Homo sapiens: one gene and its partners. The protein of the gene in region 1 purifies or fractionates together with the protein of each later gene. This does not show direct contact. Each region holds a gene or a part of one and is shown on either strand. Other genes may lie near its edges.

Region 1 (8,953 bases):
CCAGCGCTAGCGCCAGCAGTGCCAGCAGGAGCGGCGGCCGAGGAGGTGACGGAGGTGGCAACGGGGGACTGAGCGAGTAAGGCGCTGGTGTTTCAGGAAGGAAGGGGAAGTTGTAGCCGGGAAGAGCCAGCCGTGAGCCTAGAAGGGCAGGGCGAGTGTATGTGGTGTGTGTGTGTGTGTGTGTGTGTGTGTGTGTGTGTAGTTCATAAAGCACCCCCCACCCCGCCTCGCGCAACTGCCCACCACCCTAGATTTAAAACAAACAAACCAATCCAAAGTAGAGAATTCCGCGCCCCCCACCGCCCCACCTTATATAGACTCCACGAGTTGCCAGAGGCTCCGGAGAAAAGTCTTGCCCTCCCTCTCCGAAAGAATGTGTCACCCGGGTGTCCGCAGTGCTGGAGACAAGTTCAGGTGTAAGTGCGGTGGGAGGGAGGGCGCTCGGTGGACAGAAGCACGTGGAACTTTATGTCAGCCTCCCCCAAAAAAACCCTGGCGGAGAAGCCCGCCGGGAAGGCGTGTGGGCATCGCTCCCAGATACAGGGATGAGTAACTGGAAGTGGGCATAAAAGAGTAGGGGCGTGAATTAAGAACGCACTGGATCTGCGCGGCAGAGGGAGGAGAGAGCGAAATTTGGCGGATTTGGAGCAGGCAAGTTCCAAAGTCCCGCCAGGCTCGGTCTGGAGATCTTGGGGCAAGTGATTAAAATGAGCATCCTTGTTGAAACGAGAAAACCGCGGGCTCTTTTCTCATAGGCTGTGCTGGGCAGTGCAGGGGTAGAGAGGTCATGAGTTGTTGCTTTGAAAGTTTTGGTAAATTGGACTTCTGGTGTCTAGGAGGTGGAGACAGTTATTTAATTCCTCAGCTTTTAATCCCTTCATTGCCAGCCGACTTTAAAAGGTTTTCCAACTAGATTCCTGGAAAAGAATATTGCTAGTTGTACAGCTTAAAGGACAGAAGTGATTGCTGTCTAGGAAATGCAAAATGTACTCACATGATTTTCTTTTTAAAGAGAAAAATCAAACTAGCACCAGCATGAATGTTTGGCAGTGTCAGTCCCTTTTAGATTTTTCTTTCGGCTTCTTGATATTTCGTCCTGGGTTCCTTTGTTTTGTGGAAAGTGTGTTGAAGTATAAAATGAAAATTTATGAAAAGAATAGTGCTGTCTTTAAATATTGTGTGTAAAAAGTTAAAGTAAGTGTGAAGAGGGTGAGATGCACGAAAATCTGATCATTTGGAAGGTTTTACTGCCTAAATATACATCTTCTTGATAGTTGTAAGCAGTGTATCCTTCTGTCTTGTTTCAAGCTCTCTCCAAATTTCTCAGGTTATAGGAAGTGGTTTTGTCTATTGTCCCTTGTCTCTGAGAGTTTACCAAAAAAAAAAAAAAAAAAAAAAAAAAAAAAAGAAAAAGTCTTTTCCAGGTGTTTGTGTTTAAAATTCTTAAGATGTGTTCATTTTGAGATACGGGTGGGGATGAACATAGCATTTTAAAAAATAAGCCTTTTCTTGACTTGTCTGTAAAGGTGCTGTGAAAGTTTTGAAGCTCTCTGCCTCAGTCTGACATTTTCTTCAAAGGACTCCAGATTAAAGAAGATAGACGCTGCAGGTGCACTGTTTCGATGAAACATTTGAAAGGGAACATGGCAAAGATGAATTCAAATGAGGTGCCAGCCACCCATTTAGCCTTTCAGAGTTACAGGGGCCTGTGCTTGCTGATGAAAAGATGTTCTATTTGTCTTACTGGGGCAAAGGTGCAAAGAGGCATAGATGTTCAGTGATAGAGAAGGTTGACATTAGGATCAAGCGGACCATGTAGAAGTGCAAATTGATCAGCTGCTAAATTCTGTCTCTTCTTAGCTTCAAATAGTAGAACTTGGGTGGGTATCATGCTAACTGCTACAAGTCATTACCTAGATGTTTAAATATTAGGTATGTATATTTTATTTCTAGGCCACATTTGCTTGGTTTAATTAGTGTGTTTACTCCAGAAACATTTAAAATCTTTCTAGTACTGGGTGCAGAGATTGTTACTCAGAGGTCACAGCGGTCTAGACATGAATTTGATTTCCTTTGCTTCTTAATGTTCAGTATTTCACACAATAGACATTGATGGAAGAATGAACATAAGAATTGTCAAGTAATTTTTACACCACTCTCTAATTTATGCAAACACTAACTTCTCACAGTCTGAAAATGTGAATTTTTCCCCCTCTGTGCTTTGATGGCTAACATTCTTTTTAATGACAGTCATTTCTATAACAGGAAGATGTTTTCATTTGTATTTACTTTTCAGCGCGACGCAATTATGCAGTTTTGCGCTTCAGTAGTGTCTCGGTACTTTGTGTCTCAAAAGAGAATTACAGTACTTAGAACAGGACTGCAATTTGAAGCAGGTGTTGTGTTTTACTGTTATGCAAAATAACAGTAAAATATAATTGTGGGAGAAATTAAGGAAACAGCTGCAAACTTGGTATGAAAACTGCTACATTATGATTTGTAAGCAGTTCTTATAGATATCTTACATCAGAGGAGCAGGGAAAGATTTTAATTTAGTTAATCCTACTGGCCTGGTTGTCTATCATCTGGCGCTTAAAAGACTCATACCTCCCATGAAGTCAGGAAAAAGAAAGAGAACCCAAAGTGACACTTTGTTTAAAATGCCAGAGCACGGGGATTCATCTCTTGGCAGTGCACTTGACATTAGGAAGGCAGGCAAGGTGGGTGTTATTTAGCTTGCTTTGCTAATATGAAGAAGGCAATGATTTGAGTAGAACACTCTGGAATTTCTTAGCCCAGCTAGCATATGGGGGATTACTCAAGCCCCGGGTTGTAAAATAATAAAATAAATGGCCTATGGCAGGCCATCTGCCTTTTGCTCGATATTTAAGGTGTTTCATGCCAATTTTAAATCTCATCTTATTATTCTAAATATTTTTATTTGAAATAGCAGATAAGATTCTCAGAGCTTAATGGTGCACATGGCAAACCTATTCTGACGTTGTGCACTTAAAGTAAGAGCATGGGTTACCTAAGGGTTACCCAAGGAGTGTACTACGGCTTCTTCTCTACCGCACTGATCAATTGCAACAACTTGGACATGAGAATTTGCTTCCCTCAGCCTTTGCACACCTACCATAAAAATAGACATCTTCATTTCTCAACCCAGTGCAGCAAATAATATATTGACATTTATGAAAAAATCAGAACTAATGGAAATTTTAAAAAATGAAACCAATTACTGAGAATTACGTTGCACCAAGAATGAGGTGGCAGATGTAATGGCCGCCCTTCTTTACCGCTCCATCGGGGCTTGAAGAAGGGAGGTAATGAATGCATTCAAAGTGGTGGTCCAGACCTGGAGGTGTTTGGTTTTCCCCTGAGTGACTGGAGTGTTGAAAAAAATGACACTACATTTAACAAGAAAGATTTGCCTTACCATAAGGTTCTGGGCCAGTGAGGAATGCCAAGCATTGCCTACCTGTGTATTTTGGGAGCTGCTTGTGAAAGAAAAAAATATGTGTAATGTGTGGTTATTATGTGCATGTTATAGTAATACACATGTATTTGTTATAAGCACAACATTTTAAATTCTTATCTGTCATTGTGTTATATAGCTGCTTTAAACATGGAGCTTTCAAATGATTACGTGACACCAACTTTGTAAAGACCAAACATTCCAATTAGCAGGGCAGGTTTGGAAGATTCTTCACTTGGAGCACAAACCATGTATAGCCAGATGCCATGGCAACGGTGGATATGCCCCTTCCGTAATTCACGCTAAGTGCCATAATTATAATTAAAGAGGAAATCTTAGTTTGAACTCCATTGAGAAGATTTGCTAGCACCCAGCAATATGTATAGAGTGTAATATCCACTTTGAAGTGCATGAAGGGAAGAGAGTTGGGAACAGTTGTATCCATGAGCCAACAACACATATTCAGATTTTCCCTGAACTAGTTTCATGTCTAGATGTTAAATTTATGTCTCTTAGAACACCCTTTTTCTCTTTGTTCTCATTTTATATACATTTTTTTTTTCTTTCAGAAATGCACAGCGGTATTGATGAGTAGATCCTTGGATTCAGAGGTTGGCTGAAACGCACCATGCCTGCTTCCATCTTTTGCTCTGTAAAGTTGTGAATTGCTCATGCCTATAGGGAGGAAGGATGGCACATGGGATTCCTTCTCAAGGCAAAGTTACCATAACGGTGGATGAGTACAGCTCAAACCCCACCCAGGCATTCACGCACTACAACATCAACCAGAGCAGATTCCAGCCTCCACATGTACATATGTAAGTATCGCTTATGAACTTAACAAAATTAGCAATCAAGAAAATAAAAAGAAAAAAAAGAAAAGCATTCACTATTAACTTCTGCTAGGGAGACTAAAAGGTAAATGATTTACAAATCAGATGGATATCTGTGGTTTCAAATACAGCTCAGGAGGAATCCCATACATCTGTGTAACATTTCAAATTTTCAGAGCACTTTCAACCACAATTGAAATTAGATTTTCAGAGCCTCTGAGGACTGGTGGTTGGTTGCCCCTATTTATAGATAAGAACGGAAAAGAACAGAGAGGTTAAAGTATTTGCCACACAGCGAATTTGCCTGAGACTCCTGACCCCTAGTTCAATTTGCTTTACATTGTATTGCTTGCCTCCATTCTGAAATATTTCTTTAAAATTTCTGTAGTTTTTTTTTTTTTTCCCACACCTCACCCCACTAGCCCTTTACATTCAGCTGGGAAATAGGCCTAATTGGGACTAATTGTCCAGCTACTGCTAGATCCATTGTCTTGCCTGTTGCTAGTGAAACGTGTGCTGCATGCTACAGGACTCAAACAATATGGGGAACAAAGGAATAAGGGACAGTGGAACAGTTGGTTCCAGGAATTGTACTTTCCTCTCACTCCCTAATACTATTTAAGTCATGTTGAGGTTTAAACTGTTTAAGGAGCAAAGTGTGGCAGAAACCCAGAGGCAAGGATTTTGCAGCACCTGGTTGCACATCAACTTTTTTCTGGTCCTCTGCTACAGGATGTGCTGGGCTTTCAGAAGAAGGGAGCAAAAGGTCACCATCTCTCTTGTTTATTCAAGGCCTGGTGCTCATTCTCTATGAGACCCTTCCAATGTCTAACATGAGTCTTTCATAGTAGGACTAAACCTCTTTGAAAACTATTGTATAGTCAAGATAGAAAGGAGGTTAGAGCTCTGTTGACTGTTTTTACCACTCCTGGAAGAATTGAACTCGGGGCATGTCCAAGTCACAAGCTCTTTTTTTAGGAATTGTTTTACATGAGCATTTAAAAAAAAATAGTAGGACACCCCAAATACACACACCCCCCCACCCTGGAATTTACAAACGCTAACCAAACAAAAGGGTCTTTCCATTGACTGCCTGGATATTAGTGTAAATACTAGGATGTTGCTTTGCAAGTATATTCTGGAGAGCGAGTCAGTTACCTATGATGAGATTTCTGCAAAGCAGCCGTTTTAAAGCAGCATGCTTGAGTGACCAAAAAAAAAAAAAAAAGGAAAAGACAATCCTTGTAAGTGGTTACTGCTAAACTATTTGAAAGAACTTTATACGTTCTTTAAATGAGAATATATTCATGATTATGAAGGATCGCTAACATGATTTTAAGGAAAAATGGATAAAGTTTTTCTTTGTTAAAATAGCTTTTCTGAACAATAAATATCTGTTTAATTCAAATATTCTTTTTATTCTACTGTTTCTATTTACTTGTTTTTCTTCAAATATGTTACAATATTTGTGTAAGCCATACTTTAGAATAGCTTCAGTTCTGTTTTGCTGGTGTTATGTTTTTGTATTAAAGAACTACAAGGAACTTTGTAGATGCTGTTTCCATTCAAGCAAAACAAAGTGTGTTTTGCCCAGATTCCTTGGAAAATGACTGCTGGGGAACCTCAGCTTAGTTCTCAAGTCTGCAGACATCTGCTCACTTGTTCTTGGCCTCAAGATTCCACTGGCGAACTGTGAATGCACAGAGATATTTTAAAAATCATGTAACTTTAAAGTTGATCTGCTTTTATCTAGCCATAACAAATTTGAAGGATCAAATTATACCTCTTTTGAAAAAAATGGCTTGAAAATGGGGCAACCTAGACAGCTGTGTAGTGCTTTCACCAGACTCCTGATCTTGGAATAGAGGATTCTTCTACAGGCTAGTTCCAGTGTACCTTTTCACTTTTATTGCCAATAAGGGCTTCCCATCTGAACCCTCTGCTTCAGCCACACAGTTTGGCTCCCTGTCATCTGAACACATCTTAGCACCTTCCATCTTGGTGCCATTGCCATCACTGTTTCTTACAGAGCGTAACACATTTACGCTCTGCTCATCAAATGCCTCAAAGCTAGTTTAGGTTCCTCCACTTAAGCCTTTTCTACCTATCCGTTTCCAATCCAAAATGATCATGCCTGCCCAAGTTACTTGGCAACACTTTATACCACCTCCATTATTATTTTTCTTAATCTGTCTGTTTCTCTGTCTACCTACCTACCTATCTACCTATCTGTATCTATCTATCTGCCTATCTGTCTCTTATTCTTTTAATTTTTTACTTCTTAAAGAAAGGCTTGTTCTTCTGAGCAGGTGACAGATGCTCAAAAACACTGGTCAATTGATCCATTGATTTGATTATGCATTGAATAGAGAGAATAGATTGATGCTTGGAGATTTTCACTGGAATTTTTCTGTCAGTTCTTGACATTTTGAATGTTTTCATGATGGTACGTGTTGTCAGGAGGCTGGCTTACCTTTTCCCTGGCTTTACTCTTTCTTGCTTGAGAACATGCCATTGTTTTGTAGGCCTGATGGCCTCACACAGTGACTGACCTATGGTAGGTGGTCAGGGATCTTGGTTGGATTTAATCATGTCATATTTCTGTTATGTTAAGAAACAAAAATTGGCCTTAATCTAATTAGAAACTTTAATTGGCTAGAAAATATCTATAAAATATTTAGTCTAAAATGTCTTCAGTTTTTCTGAAAATTTCAACATGTCATGGCAGAACTTTGCTCCTCTCCCCGAGGTAAAGATATTTTGTCTTTTCCACTTGCGTAGTTGCTCATTTATTTTGCATGGGATTGTTAAATTATTTGCTTCCTTTTTTCACTTACACTTGAGATTTCTGAAGACCCCTGACAGATCACTTGGATTATAGTTAAAAACCCTATCCCTTTAATGATGTCTTACTTTCTTTTCTACAGCCTTGTGATGGTAGTTGGGGTTTTTCACCTTAATTAGGAAGAGCTCACTTCCCATTTAATTCAATTAGTCTCAGCTCAGCTTTGTGACTAACAAATTTTCTTTTCCAAGTCTCAGTTTACTCATCTGTAAATATTTGCACCAAATGATGGTTAAGGATCTTTTTAGCTCTGACTTGCTAAGATTAAGATTGCAGTTAAGACAATGTTTATTTGCAAGGCGATGCTATTAAGGAAACAAAAATAAATAAGACCCAGTCCCCATCTTCATGAAGCTCATTGCTGATTTCAGAGCTGATGTTTCAAACAGCTTTAAGAAGCATTGGTTTAGTTTTCATCTCTGAGTTCTGACAAGATTACCACCAAGCTCTCTAAGAATGACTGGCTTGAATCTCTGCTTGTTATGGAGGGAAGTTTTTTTTTTTTAGAAAGCAATCCTGTATGACCTTGGGAAAGAAAATTAAAGCACAGCTGGAGTTGGCAGAGCAAAATTTAACCTAGAATTTGTGTGCCTCACTTACCCAGACTCTTGAGCATACTAATAGATGTGATGATTGAAGCCCAGCAATTAACAGGGTTTCATTTTTCCACAACCCCTTCATCTTTCCCAAGCAGAATGATAAGAAAAATTATTTAGTATTTTTAATGATGGTGGGAGGAGGTGCTGAAGGAGCCAATGTAGGTCTGAAAACACCATAAAGATTTTGTATGTGTTTCATAATCTGAGGCCTAATCAAATGTTACAAAACTTTATTAGTAGGGTATCCAGCCATTTCAGTTTTAGCATTGAAATCCCCGTGTTATTGGAATGCCATAGGACAATAGGATACCCTACTCAGGTTAATTCTTCATGTTTTTCTTTAAGGATTGACGACTAGGGAACTCAAATCAAGCCTTGTTTTCAGTTTTAGCCACTTTCCTTATCTGCGCCTTCTGTTGTTAACACCCCTTGAATCTTACACTGCACTTGTTCTTTTACCCTGGTTCTGTGGAGGCAGGTTAGCATAGTGGTCAATATCACCTGTGGAATCAGATTACCGGGTTTAACATTTGCTTGCACCACTGACTAGCTGTATAACCAACTGTGAATACATACTCTAACTTCCTTATGTTTTATTTTTCTATCTGTAAGATCCGGACCATAAAAGTAATGCCTATCTCAAAAGGCTGTGGAGGATAGAAGGATGAAACAGTATTACATGTTAATGCTTATACATACATAGTCTATGCTCAATAAATGTTAGCTGTTATCATTAATAATTTTTTCATTGATTCTGGGTTTTTAATTTTAAACTGCCAATTCATTTGAAAAGCAGTGGAGTGTATACAAATGAATAAATAAAGTCATTGCTAAATCTTGTCCTTTCTTCCTCATGGAGCTATGAGCAGCAAAGAGTCATGGAAACTTTTCTAGGTGGGATTTTGGTTTGTCAGGGTTGGCAAGTGTCCCGGTTTAGTGCCTTTCAAGATTATAAACAGCCTAGGAGTGTCTCATCCACCTCCAGTTACTCCACGGGAGTGGCAGTCCCAAGGCGGGGATGGAATCTTGTGAGCTGAGTGCTGACTGGTTGCTGTCTGTGGAATCACAGTGGCCTTCCTCCACATGAGCTGGACCTAGGTTCTCTGTACCCCAGTCAGTTTCTTAGACTTCCTATCTCTATCTGTGGTTAAAACAAAAACATCAAGCGCTATCTGTAATTAACCAGGATTGAGTGCAA
Region 2 (6,490 bases), on another chromosome or scaffold:
TGCCCTACAGCTCTGGTGCTGAATTCCACAGGTGCCTTTCCCACCACAGAGCTGTGCCACACACTCCCGAGGCTGGGACGGGAGAGTCCCTGGTACCCCACATGATTCCGTATCAACCCAGTGAAGCCCACATTTCAAAGTCTTGGCCTTGTAGGTGCCTGACTCCCAAACGTCAATCTCTGAAACAGATTTTTAGTTCCATGTGAGAAAAAAAACTGAAGTCAGATTGACTCAGGCACAAAAGGGGGGAGACTGAGTTCACAGAACTTAAAACACCCAAGGGTTTCAGGTATGGCTTGATCTGGGGCTCCAAAGGCATCTTGGGAAATTGATCTTCCATCCTTGGCTCTGCTTTAATTAGATTCTCCCAGTTCCAAATCCCACCGTGCAATCTCACTGGCTAGTTTGGCATCCCAGGGCCTCCATAAACCAGTTGCTGTGGCCCAGGGAATGGTGGTCTCTGATTGGCTCGCCTTACATCATGTGACAGGACTGGCCCCAGAGGTTTCTCCCAAGGACATTGGAGCCCAAACAAGATTAAGGGCCCGGCAGCTCATGCCTATAATCACACCACTTTGGGAGGCCAAGGCAGGTGGATCACCTGTCAGGAGTTCGAGACCAGCCTGGCCAACATGGCAAAACCCCTCTAGTTAAGGTACAAAAATCAGCTGAACGTGGTGGTGCGCACCTGTAATCCCAACTACTCAGGAGGCTGAGGCAGGAGAATTGCTCCAACTCGGGAGGCAGAGGTTGCACTGAGCCAAGATTGCACCACTGCACTCCAGCCCAGGTGAAACAGCGAAACTCCATCTCAAAAAAAAAAAAAAAAAAAAAAAAAAAGATTAAGGTTGACCAAAAGAAAGTAAGTGAGGCTAGGCACAGTGGCTCACGCTTGTAATCCACTTTTGGAGGCCTCAGGTGCATCACCTGAGGTCAGGAGTTCGAGACCAACCTGGTCAACATGGTGAAACCCCATCTCTACCAAAAATAAAATTAGCTGGGCATCGTGGTGGGTGCCTGTAGTTCCAGCTACTGGGGAGGCTGAGGCAGGAGAATCGCTTGAACCTGTGAGGCAGAGGTTACAGTGAGCCAAGATCACGCCACTGCACTCCAGCCTGGGTGACGAAGTAGGACTCCGTCTCAAAAATAAAAAATAAAAATAAAGACCAGGGAGGCTGTGCAGGTAGGAAATGTCTTTATTATTGGCCTTGAGTCATCATGTAGTGTCTGACATAGGTTACGTGTCCAGAGGATCTGCCTGGCACACGCTAGCTACCCCTGCCCACTGGAGCAGCCCCTCTGGCCGACGCCAGGCCTTTGTCCATCATGCCAGGGAAGCCAACCCCACCATCCCACAAGTTCATGCTAGGGGTGCTGAGGAACAAGGCTGTCCTAGGATTGGACCCTCCATCCTGGACAGGGGTCCTGGGGAGGATGAGGCTGAGGCCTGGATGATCAGTCTCTTTTTGGTTTCATGATCATTTAAAAAACAGAAAAGACAAACATTTCACAGTCTTTAAAAAATAGAAGTCTGAGGAGAGAAGCCAGAGTCCTGGGCCCCGGGAGGCCCCTCGAGGCCTCAGCATTCCCTGTCCCTTGAGGTCTGTCTGCAGGCCTGGCCACAGCACACGTGGCCCCGTCATGGTCACTGGCCCGAGCCGTAGGGCCAGTTGAAGGTACTCCCCGACAGCAGCATGTCTCTGATCAGTGTCTCAATGGGCGTCTTCCCCACCAGGCGCATGAAGAACAGCTGGGAGATGAGGGAGGCAGGGACCGCGCGCAGGGCGGGGAGCCGCAGCAGCAGGCGCCCGAAGCGCTGGGGCTGGGACGGGTACTGCGCCCGCACATACTCGGTGAGGGCCACCTGCGCCTTCTCCTGCAGGCTCTCAACGTGGGCCGGGTCTGAGAGGCCACAGGCGTCTAGGGGGACAAAGGCAAGTCAGACAGGTGGGAGGCAGCTAGAGAACACAGAGCCCACAGGGGTGACTAGGGGACACCACTCGCCACTGTGGGTAAGAACAGGGGGCCGGGCATGATGGCTCACGGCCACAGTCCCAGCACTTTGGGAGGCCAAGGCAGAAGCATCATTTAAGGCCAGGATTTGAGACCAGCCAGGGCAACATAGTATGATCCCTTCTCTGCAAAAACAAATCAGCTGGGGCTGGGCACAGTAGCTCACGCCTGTAATCCCAGCACTTTGGGAGGCTGAGGCAGGTGGATCACTTGAGGTCAGGAGTTCAAGACCAGCCTGGCCAACATGATGATATTCCGTCTCTACTAAAAATAAGAATAATTAGCCAGGCATGGTAGTGCGTGCCTGCAGTTCCAGCTACTCGGAAGGCTAATGGGAGGATCGCTTGAGCCTGGGAGGCGGAGGTTGCAGTGAGCCGAGATCGTGCCACTGCACTCCAGCCTGGGCAACAGAGGGAGACCCTGTCTCAAAATAAATAAAAAATAAAAATTAGTCCAGTGTGATGGCACACGCTTGTAGTCCCAGCTCCTCAAGAGGCTGAGGTGGGAGGATCTCTTGAGCCTAGGAGTTTGAGGCTACAGTGATCCATGATCATAGCACAGCCTGGGCGACAGAGTAATAAGACCCTGTCTCAAACAAAACAAAACAAAACAAAACAAAACAAAACAAAAAACGACCCTGGGATGCAAATGGGACTATCTAAGACTGTGTCGATCCTCCAGAGATAGTGAGGTGTTCTCATCTAACCAGTGACATAGGGGTGCAGGCAGTGATGTTTCAAGGGTGGCTGGCACCCAACTCATGCCTTTGGCAGGGAGACAGGTTCTAATTTTTTTTTCTTTAAGATAGAGTCTCACACTGTCGCCCAGGCTGAAGTGTAGTGGCACGATCTCACTGCAACCTCTGCCTCCGGGTTCAAGTGATTCTCCTGCCGCAGCCTCACAAGTAGCTGGCATTACAGGCACACTCCACCACGCCTAGCTAATTTTTGTATTTTTAGTAGAGACGGGTTTTGCTGTGTTGGCCAGGCTGGTCTTGAACTCCTGACCTCAAGCAATCTCCCCACCTCGGCCTCCCAAAGTGCTGGGATTACAGGGCCACCAGCCAGGCCAAGGAGATGGGTTCTAAGGAAGCTCGCAGGGAAGGTGGGGCTGGGAAGGGAATTTGATGAGGAAGACAGAGCCCAGAAGGGCCTACGGTGTGAGAGAATGTGGCAGCCTCTAGAGAGAGACCCAAGATAGGAAGCCAAGAAGAAATCTGGGAAGGCCAGGCGCGGTGGCTCACGCCTGTAATCCCAGCACTTTGGGAGGCTGAGGCGGGCAGATCATGAGGTCAGGAGTTCGAGATCAGCCTGACCAACATGATGAAACCCCGTCTCTACTAAAAACACAAAAATTAGCCAGGCGTGGTGACGCGTGCCTGTAATCCCAGCTACTCAGGAGGCTGAGGCAGGAGAATAGCTTGAACCAGGGAGGCGGAGGTTGCAGTGAGCCGAGATCGTGCTACTGCACTCCAGCCTGGGCGACGGAGTAAGACTCCGTCTCAAAAAAAAAAAAAAAAAATCTTCTGGGAAAACAATAAATAAAGCCATATTTATTGATTTTTGAGACGCGGTCTCACTCTGTTGCGCAGGCTCAAGTGCAGTGGGAAAATCAGAGCTCACTGGAGCCTCGAACTCCTGGGCTCAAGTGGTTCTCCCAACTCTGCTTCCTAAAGTGCGGTGATTACAGGCCTGAGCCACCTTGCAGGCCCAAAACCATATTTATCAAATGAAAGCCACCTCCCAGAGTAGCCTGGATCTGGTTCCTAGCCCCAAAGATACCTCTGATGGGATCTAGAGACTTCCAGTAGGTTAAAGAACTCCCAGGAGACAGGCTGGAGAGATCTTTGTCTAAAGGCATGGTGGCTTATGCCTGTAATCCTAGCACTTTGGGTGGCTGAGGCAGGACTGGTTGCGCCCAGAAGCTCAAGACCAGCCTAGGCAACACGGTGAGACCACGTCTCTACAGAAAACGTTTAAAAAAAAATTAGCCGGGAATGGTGGTGCACGCCTGTGGTCCCAGCTACTCAAGAGGCTGAAGTGTGAGGGAGGATTGCTTGAGCCCTGGAGATCAAGGCTGCAGTGAACCGTGTTCGGACAACTGCACTCCAGCCTGGGTGACAGGGTGAGACCCAGTCTCAAAAAATGGAAATACAAATAAAAAAATAAAGTGGAAAAAAAAAATTTGGCTGTACCGCCAGTCGCTGGAATACGATGGGCTACCACTGCTAGATAGCTGATGGTTAAGAAAGTTCTGGGGTTGCCCCGCCCCTCAACGGGAGGGGCCTCCGAGCCACGCCCCTACCCAGATCCCTACAACCCTGGCTACCTGGAGGTTGCCCTGGGAGCCCAGTGGGGGCCTGAGGGGGCCAGAACCAGGGGGTCAGGACCTTCCCTCCCACGTCCCCCCAACCTTGTGCTATCAGTGCTCACTAAGCCTGAAGAGCCCTTTGGTGAGGGAGTAGGGGTCTCAGGGAGCCTGGGAACAGGAAGAGGGTTCTGGGGTCTGGGCCCTGGTCCTGGCCCAGCCTTGGGTCTGGGGTCCGGGGTTCAGAGTTCTCCGAGAGTCCTGGGATCACGGAGTGGGGGTGTCACAGTGTCACACTGCTTACATCACCCCTCTACAGCCACCCAAGAGCGTTCACTCACGGCGCGTGCAGGGCCCCAGGCCTAGGGAGCGAGCGGGGCGCTATGGGGGCCGGAGTCTGGGTCCAGGCCGCCCTCCTCCTAACCTCCCTTGGGTCCCCCCATCCCGCGGCCCTCTTCGGAGCGTGGCTCACCGGGCGTGAAGAGCGCGATGGCCTTGAGGCAGCCATACTCGGCCGAGTCGACCTGCAGGCGGCCCAGCTTGTCCACCTGCTCCTGGAAGGCGCGCACCTGGTCCATGAAAGCCACGGCGCGCTCGGCGGCCATAGGCGCGGCGTGGAGGCCGGCGGCGGCCAGTAGCGGCGCCGTGTGCAGGGGCAGCGCCGCCTGCGCCGCGTTCAGCACGAAGAGCTCGCTCCAGCTCAGGCGCAGCAGCGCCACCTGGTCGGCCACCGGCAGCTCGGGGAAGAAGGGCGCGTGGCGCGCCCACTCCACGGTGCTGAAGAGCAGCCGCGCCGCCAGCTCGCACACGTTGTCGATGCCCAGCACCGCGCCCGCCGCGCCGCCCCCTGCGCCGAAGCGTCCGGCCGCCGCAGGGTAGGGCTCAGCGCGCAGCAGCTGCGCGATCAGTTCGGACACCGGCTGCCCCGGGAAGAGGTCTCCGCCGCTCGCCACTGCCGCCAGCGCCGAGCCCGGGGGGCTGCCCGAGGAGGCGGCCACGGCACCAGGCAGCGAGTGCGGGATGCGGCCGCGCTGCACCGCTGCGGGAGGCGGGGACAGGAGGGACATGGGGGCGGGAGGGGAGGCGGGGGGGGGGGGGGCGGGCAGCAGGAAACGGGGGAGGGACAGGAGATGGGGGAGGGGAGGGCGGGGCACAGAAGGCCGGGAGGAGAGGAGATTGGAGAGACAGGAAGGGAAGCGAGGGGTAGAGAGGAGAGGGCCGGAAGAGGGGGGATGAGGGGCCAAGTAGGTGCCCATAGAGACATGGGGTGGGGGGCAGGTGGGGGGGGGCAGGTAGGGAGAATAACGGGAAAGGGAGACAAAAGTCATCAAGGGGTCACTCAGGCCCTCCCCTCCAAAGCCTCCAGGCCCAGCCTTTCCCAGAATGCCCAACCCCACCCCATGGGCGCCAGGCTGGTTAGAAAGTAAGAGTCCAGGAGTCCCTGTCTAGGTCCAGCCACCACCCCCCACCCCCAGCTCCTGGGGACAAGGAGGAGCATCTAATAAACCTTTTGGAGCCTCCTAACAGATAGTCATGGGGTTCCCAGAGCTGAGGATGGGCCATGGAGGACTTGGGGACCCTGGCCAGCTTGGTCCCCAAAGCAACAGATCAATACCCACCCAGCACTGGCTCTCTCCTATGGAACAGGGATCATTTCTCTACCTTCCATCCCCCTCCCCACCAGATGGTGACCCCTGAGGGCCGGTCTGGGTCCCTGCAGAGGCTACAGTGCAGGGAAGGGTTGGGGGGGACCTACAGTAAGGAGGGGTCCCAGGGGGGCTGCCATAGGTCCTCAGTAAACATTAGCCGCCATCAGTAGCCTTGCTTATGAAGCGGGGAGGCCCTGCTGCTGGCTTGGGCACGTCTGCAGTGACCAGGTGGGTGAGAAAAGGGAAACTGAGGCATGAAGAGGAAGAGAGTTGGCCATGTGCCTGCCTGGCTTGTGCCGGGGTGGGCGGGATGGCAGGGCTGACTGGGCTGGTTGCCAGCAGACTAATTAATGAGCTTTAATGAGCTGGCATGCCCCATCTCATCACCTCCGTGAACTCCAGGTCAACTCTGTGTAGAGCAAACACCGGAGGGGAACGCGAGCAGAAGCCAGGGGCGAACAGAGCTAAGCGGAGAAGCCAGGGCATGGGTTGAAGCCCGCTCCAAGGGGTCCCTGAGTCTG
Region 3 (4,509 bases), on another chromosome or scaffold:
TTCAGGCAGTAGAGCAGCTGGACGCTGAAGAGGCACCCGGCCTCGCCCCGATTCCCGCGGGACCCTTCGAATTTTAGGAACTTTTCACTAACGAAACACACTTCTGTGTCAGCACCGACATCAAGAAGAGAACCTCACCAGCACCTCAGAACCCGCTTTGTCCCTCCCTGGTTCCTTCCCCTGGGTGCCTGGTGTGCTGCCGTCTCACCCATATGTAGTTGAGCGCAGCAGCCCCTGTAGGACACCTGGCAGATCAGGTCACAGTCCTGCTGTGCCCTCGGGCTCACTCGGGAGCTGGGGGCTCCCAGGTGCTCCTCCAGCAGCTCAGTTCAGCATGCTGGGGGGTCAGGGCCAGCCCCTGTCCCTGGGGCCTCAGGCCTCCCTTTCTTCCCACAGTGGCCAAGATCGCGGGTCTCTACAATGACTTGGAGCCACCCCGGAAGACCATGCGCAGAGGGGTGCTGATGACCCTGCTGCAGCAGTCGGCCATGACCCTGCCCCTGTGGATTGGGAAGCCTGGTGACAAGTGAGGGCAGCAGCTGCGAGGAAGGGGCTGGTGCCCAGGGGCTGGGACTGATCCTTTGTTCCACTCACAGGCCCCCACCCCTCTGTGGGGCCATCCCTGCCTCAGGAGACTACGTGGCCAGACCTGGAGACAAGGTGGCTGCCCGGGTGAAGGCCGTGGATGGGGATGAGCAGTGGATCCTGGCCGAGGTGGTCAGTTACAGCCATGCCACCAACAAGTGAGTGACACCAGCCCCGGGGCTGCTCTCTGCCCTTCCTGTCCACCTGCCCCACAGCCCCAGGAGGACTATTCTATCCTGTTTGAAGACACCTCCTATGCAGACGGCTACTCCCCTCATCTCAGTGTGGCCCAGAGGTACCTGGTAGCTTCTAAGGAGCCCAAGAAAAAGTGACGCTGCCCGGCGGACTCGACGTCCTCCACCATCTTGGGGCAGGACAGCAGAGGATGTGCTGGGATTAAACAGACATCCCCCCTCCACACATCTCCTGGGTTTTACTTCTCCAAACCCTTCTCCCCTCCCCAGATATGGTGACCTGGGGAGCTGAAGGCTGGGGGAGAGGTGACCATATGTGGCCCCACCGGGCATTCACTCTTTCAGCTCAGAGTTTCTCTTCCTTTCCAATACAGGCTCTACATGAACACAAATCATATTTTATTTTAATTGAGCTTTATTTTCTTTGGAGGGAGGGTCTTGCTTGTCATCCAGGCTGTAGTGAATGGGCATGTCATAACTCACTGTATCCACAACCTCCTGGGCTGAAATGATCCTCCAGCCTCTGCTTCCCAAGTAGCTGGGACTACAGGTAAGTGCCAGCACATGTGGCTAATTTTTTTACATCTTTGTAGAGATGAGGTCTCACTATTTTACCAGGCTGGTCTCAAATTCGTGGCCTATTGTGATCCTACCAGCTCAACCTCCCAAATCGCTGGGATTGCAGACATGAGCCACTGTGCCTGACTCAAAAATCATACTTTATTCTTGAGCCCATTGGTCAGGGTAGATTCGCACACTCCCTCTGCAGTGACTCCAGGAGCCCCTCTCACAGCTCAGAGCGGAAGCTGAGGCTGCAGCCTGCCATCTTCTCCGCATAGTCCGCATCGAAGCGCTCATTCTGCGCCACGGTGAAGGTGGTCTTCCAGTCCCCAGCCATGCCTGGGGGAGGAAGGCAGGGAGCAAAGCTGGAGTCTCATCCCAGGGGAGGCCCCAAGTGCCTATGGGGAGGCTGCAGCTGCTGCTCCCACCCGCCCCAAACCCCCGTGCTGGCCAGCACCCACCTTTCCTCATGAAGGGGGAGATGCTGTGGTCCATGAGCTCCTGGGGGACGGTGGTGTAGTTGGTCATAGGGTTCTTCTTCATCTCCTTGAACGACGTGTGCTGAACCATGAAGTCCATGGTCTCCTCTGGCAGGGAGCGCCCCACAAACTCCAGGATCTTTTGAATCTCCCTTTTGGGGTTCTGAGCAGCAGAGGGCTCCTCAGTGGAGCAAAACAAAACGGGTCCCCCTCTCTAACCTCAGAGGGGATCTGGCCACTTCCCCTAGAAACCCCAAAGAGCCTCAACCCCTGGGGCCCTAGTCTCTGGAGTAAAATGAATTGATCTCTGCCCTGTGATCCCATCATGAACAGGGCTTGGCGCCTATGGGTGAGGACCGGGATGGTCTTCTTCCATGACTGTGGCCCTGGGTGGCACACCCTTTGGTGAGGATAAGCAATAGGACTAAGTATCTGATCCGTGGCCACCCATGCAGCTGACTCAGGTGCAGAAGATGAAAGCTGTGCCGAGCCTGCTGCCAGGTGGGGCTGCAGTGGGGGGGCCTGGGCCAGGGAGGTAGGATGGGGAATCCGGGCTTGCTGTGGGAGCCGCCCAGGGACGGGGCTGGGTGGCCTTGGTGGGTCCCTGTGAGGTGCCTGCCCCCAGGTGTCACATGGGGGGAAGCATCACAGTCGGTCTCACCTCCTTCATGTCTTCATAGAAGAGGTAGAGAACAGGGTGGGTGCGGCTCAGCTCCCACCACTCCTGCACGTGCTGGTACCAGGACCCGTAGGACACTAGAGAAGCGGGCAGGGGGCACCGACACAGGGTTGCTGTACGTTATAGCCACCACCCCTCGGCTTCACACCCTCCTTCCTCCAGTCAAGCCCACCTTCTCCAGCCATGAACTTTTCCAGGAAGCTGTCCCAGGTCCCAGGCTCAGGGTGCGCCTTTTCCATACGGTGGAAATGGTAGTAGGAGACCGCCACGTCCTTTGGGTTTCGGGCAACATAGACCACCTGCAGGGGCAGAGGACCCAGCCCCAGCACCATCACCACACAGCCCACCCCAGGCCAGCTCATCTGTTGAACTGGCAAAGGAGGAACCTGAGGCTTAGAGGCTGACTTGCTTGAGATCTCACTGCACAGGTAGGGCCAAGCTGGGATCTGAACCCTGCTCGGAAGCCAAAGTCCTGCCTGGTTCCTGAGACCATATTCTATACTAATATAATCTGCACCAATGCCATCATATCCTGATCTGGAGCAAGGCATGCCTGGTCCCCACCAGCTCCCCCTCCTCCGCTGACCTGTGAGCACCCACATGCTGCCTTTCTTAAGTGTGCACTGTAGAGACTCACTATCCTTGCATCAGACCCTCATCAGAGCAAGAGGCAGACAGTGTCCTCTCTCAAGATGTGATGAAGGCTGGGCGTGGTGGCTCATGCCTCTAATCCCGGCACTTTGGGAGGCCAAGGTGGCCAGATCACCTGAGGTCAGGAGTTCAAGACCAGCCTGACCAACATGGTGAAACCCCATCTCTACTAAAAATACAAAATTAGCCGGGCGTGGTGGCAGGTACCTGTAATCCCAGCTCCTTGGGAGGCTGAAGCAGGAGAATTGCTTGAACCCAGGAGGCGGTGGTTGCAGTGAACCGAGATCACACGATTGCGCTCTAGCCTCGGCAACAAGAGTGAAACTGTCTCAAAAAAAAAAAGGGCCAGGCGCGGTGGCTCACGCCTGTAATTCCAGCACTTTGTGAGGTCGAGGCAGGAGGATCACAAGGTCAAGAGTTTGAGATCCACTTGACCAACATGGTGAAACCCCGTCTCTACTAAAAAGAATACAAAAATTAGCCGGGTGTGGTAGCACACGCCTGTAATCCCAGCTACTCAGGAGGCTGAGGCAGGAGAATCACTTGAACTGGGGAGGCGGAGGTTGCAGTGAGCTGAGATCATGCCACTGCACTCCAGCCAGGGTGACAGAGCAAGACTCTGTCTCAAAAAAAAAAAAAGATGTGATGAGCCTGGCAGAAGCGAGGAGGCCCTTCCAGAAGAACAGGTACATGGCTGAGAGGGCACCTGAGCCCCCCTTCCTGGCTTTCCTTGCCAGTCAGTGGGAACTTTTTTTTTCGTAGAGATGGTTTTGCTGTGTTGCCCAGGCTGGAGTGCAGCAGCAGGATCATCAGGGCTCATTGCAGCTTCCTATTTGCATAAACAGTCCTCCCCGCTGAGCCTCCTAAGTAACTGGGAACAGTCTATGCCACCATACCAGGTTGTTAATTTTATTTTTGTAGAGATGGGATGTCATCTCTACAGCAATGTTGCCCAGGCTGGTCTCCATCTCTCGCCTTCAAGGGATCCTCCCTCCTCAGTCTCAAACTGGGATGACAGGTGTGAACCATTGAGCCCGGCCTCACCTTGACCTTCTGATCCAACAGAGTCTGAGGGAGCAGAGCCAGGGGCAGGTGTGACTTGATGAGCCGTGGGGGCGGTGTGTCTTTCAGAGTCTCCAGCCCTGAGTAGTGGGTCAGGGAAGGTCTGGTGAGCTGAAGCCCCAGCCCTGTCTTCCTCCACTTCCCTTACCCCCAGGACCCAGCCATGCACCTGAGGGTTCCCCTGGATCATTGACCTCAAGGAAGGGCACCCGTACGTAGATGGGAGCCCGGTTACACTTCTCTAGGTCGCCGCCCTGGTAGATCATGTCCAGTATCTGGCTCACCCAGGTGGTGCCTG

The links. Proteins that work in one complex are often made in the same cells at the same time.
Region 2: the proteins of MPPED2 (region 1) and NR2F6 purify together in Homo sapiens (affinity purification with mass spectrometry; 3 studies listed by BioGRID and IntAct, with this or other methods). This does not show direct contact.
Region 3: the proteins of MPPED2 (region 1) and SULT1A3 purify together in Homo sapiens (affinity purification with mass spectrometry, with the first as the bait; 2 studies listed by BioGRID). This does not show direct contact.

Annotation. Positions count from the first base shown.
Region 1 is NC_000011.10:30,575,589-30,584,541, reverse strand, and holds part of MPPED2 (metallophosphoesterase MPPED2), read left to right. Parts: exon of another isoform or gene 1-76; intron 77-308; exon of another isoform or gene 309-1,667; intron 1,668-4,047; 5' UTR 4,048-4,168; coding exon 4,169-4,296; intron 4,297-8,953. UniProt on the Homo sapiens protein: Displays low metallophosphoesterase activity (in vitro). May play a role in the development of the nervous system.
Region 2 is NC_000019.10:17,230,707-17,237,196, forward strand, and holds the end of NR2F6 (nuclear receptor subfamily 2 group F member 6), read right to left. Parts: intron 5,360-6,490; coding exon 4,793-5,359; intron 1,921-4,792; coding exon 1,646-1,920; 3' UTR 1,177-1,645; downstream 1-1,176. UniProt on the Homo sapiens protein: Transcription factor predominantly involved in transcriptional repression.
Region 3 is NC_000016.10:30,200,978-30,205,486, reverse strand, and holds the end of SULT1A3 (sulfotransferase 1A3), read right to left. Parts: intron 4,507-4,509; coding exon 4,381-4,506; intron 4,292-4,380; coding exon 4,194-4,291; intron 2,798-4,193; coding exon 2,671-2,797; intron 2,576-2,670; coding exon 2,481-2,575; intron 1,983-2,480; coding exon 1,802-1,982; intron 1,680-1,801; coding exon 1,567-1,679; 3' UTR 1,177-1,566; downstream 1-1,176. UniProt on the Homo sapiens protein: Sulfotransferase that utilizes 3'-phospho-5'-adenylyl sulfate (PAPS) as sulfonate donor to catalyze the sulfate conjugation of phenolic monoamines (neurotransmitters such as dopamine, (R)-adrenaline/epinephrine, (R)-noradrenaline/norepinephrine and serotonin) and phenolic and catechol drugs.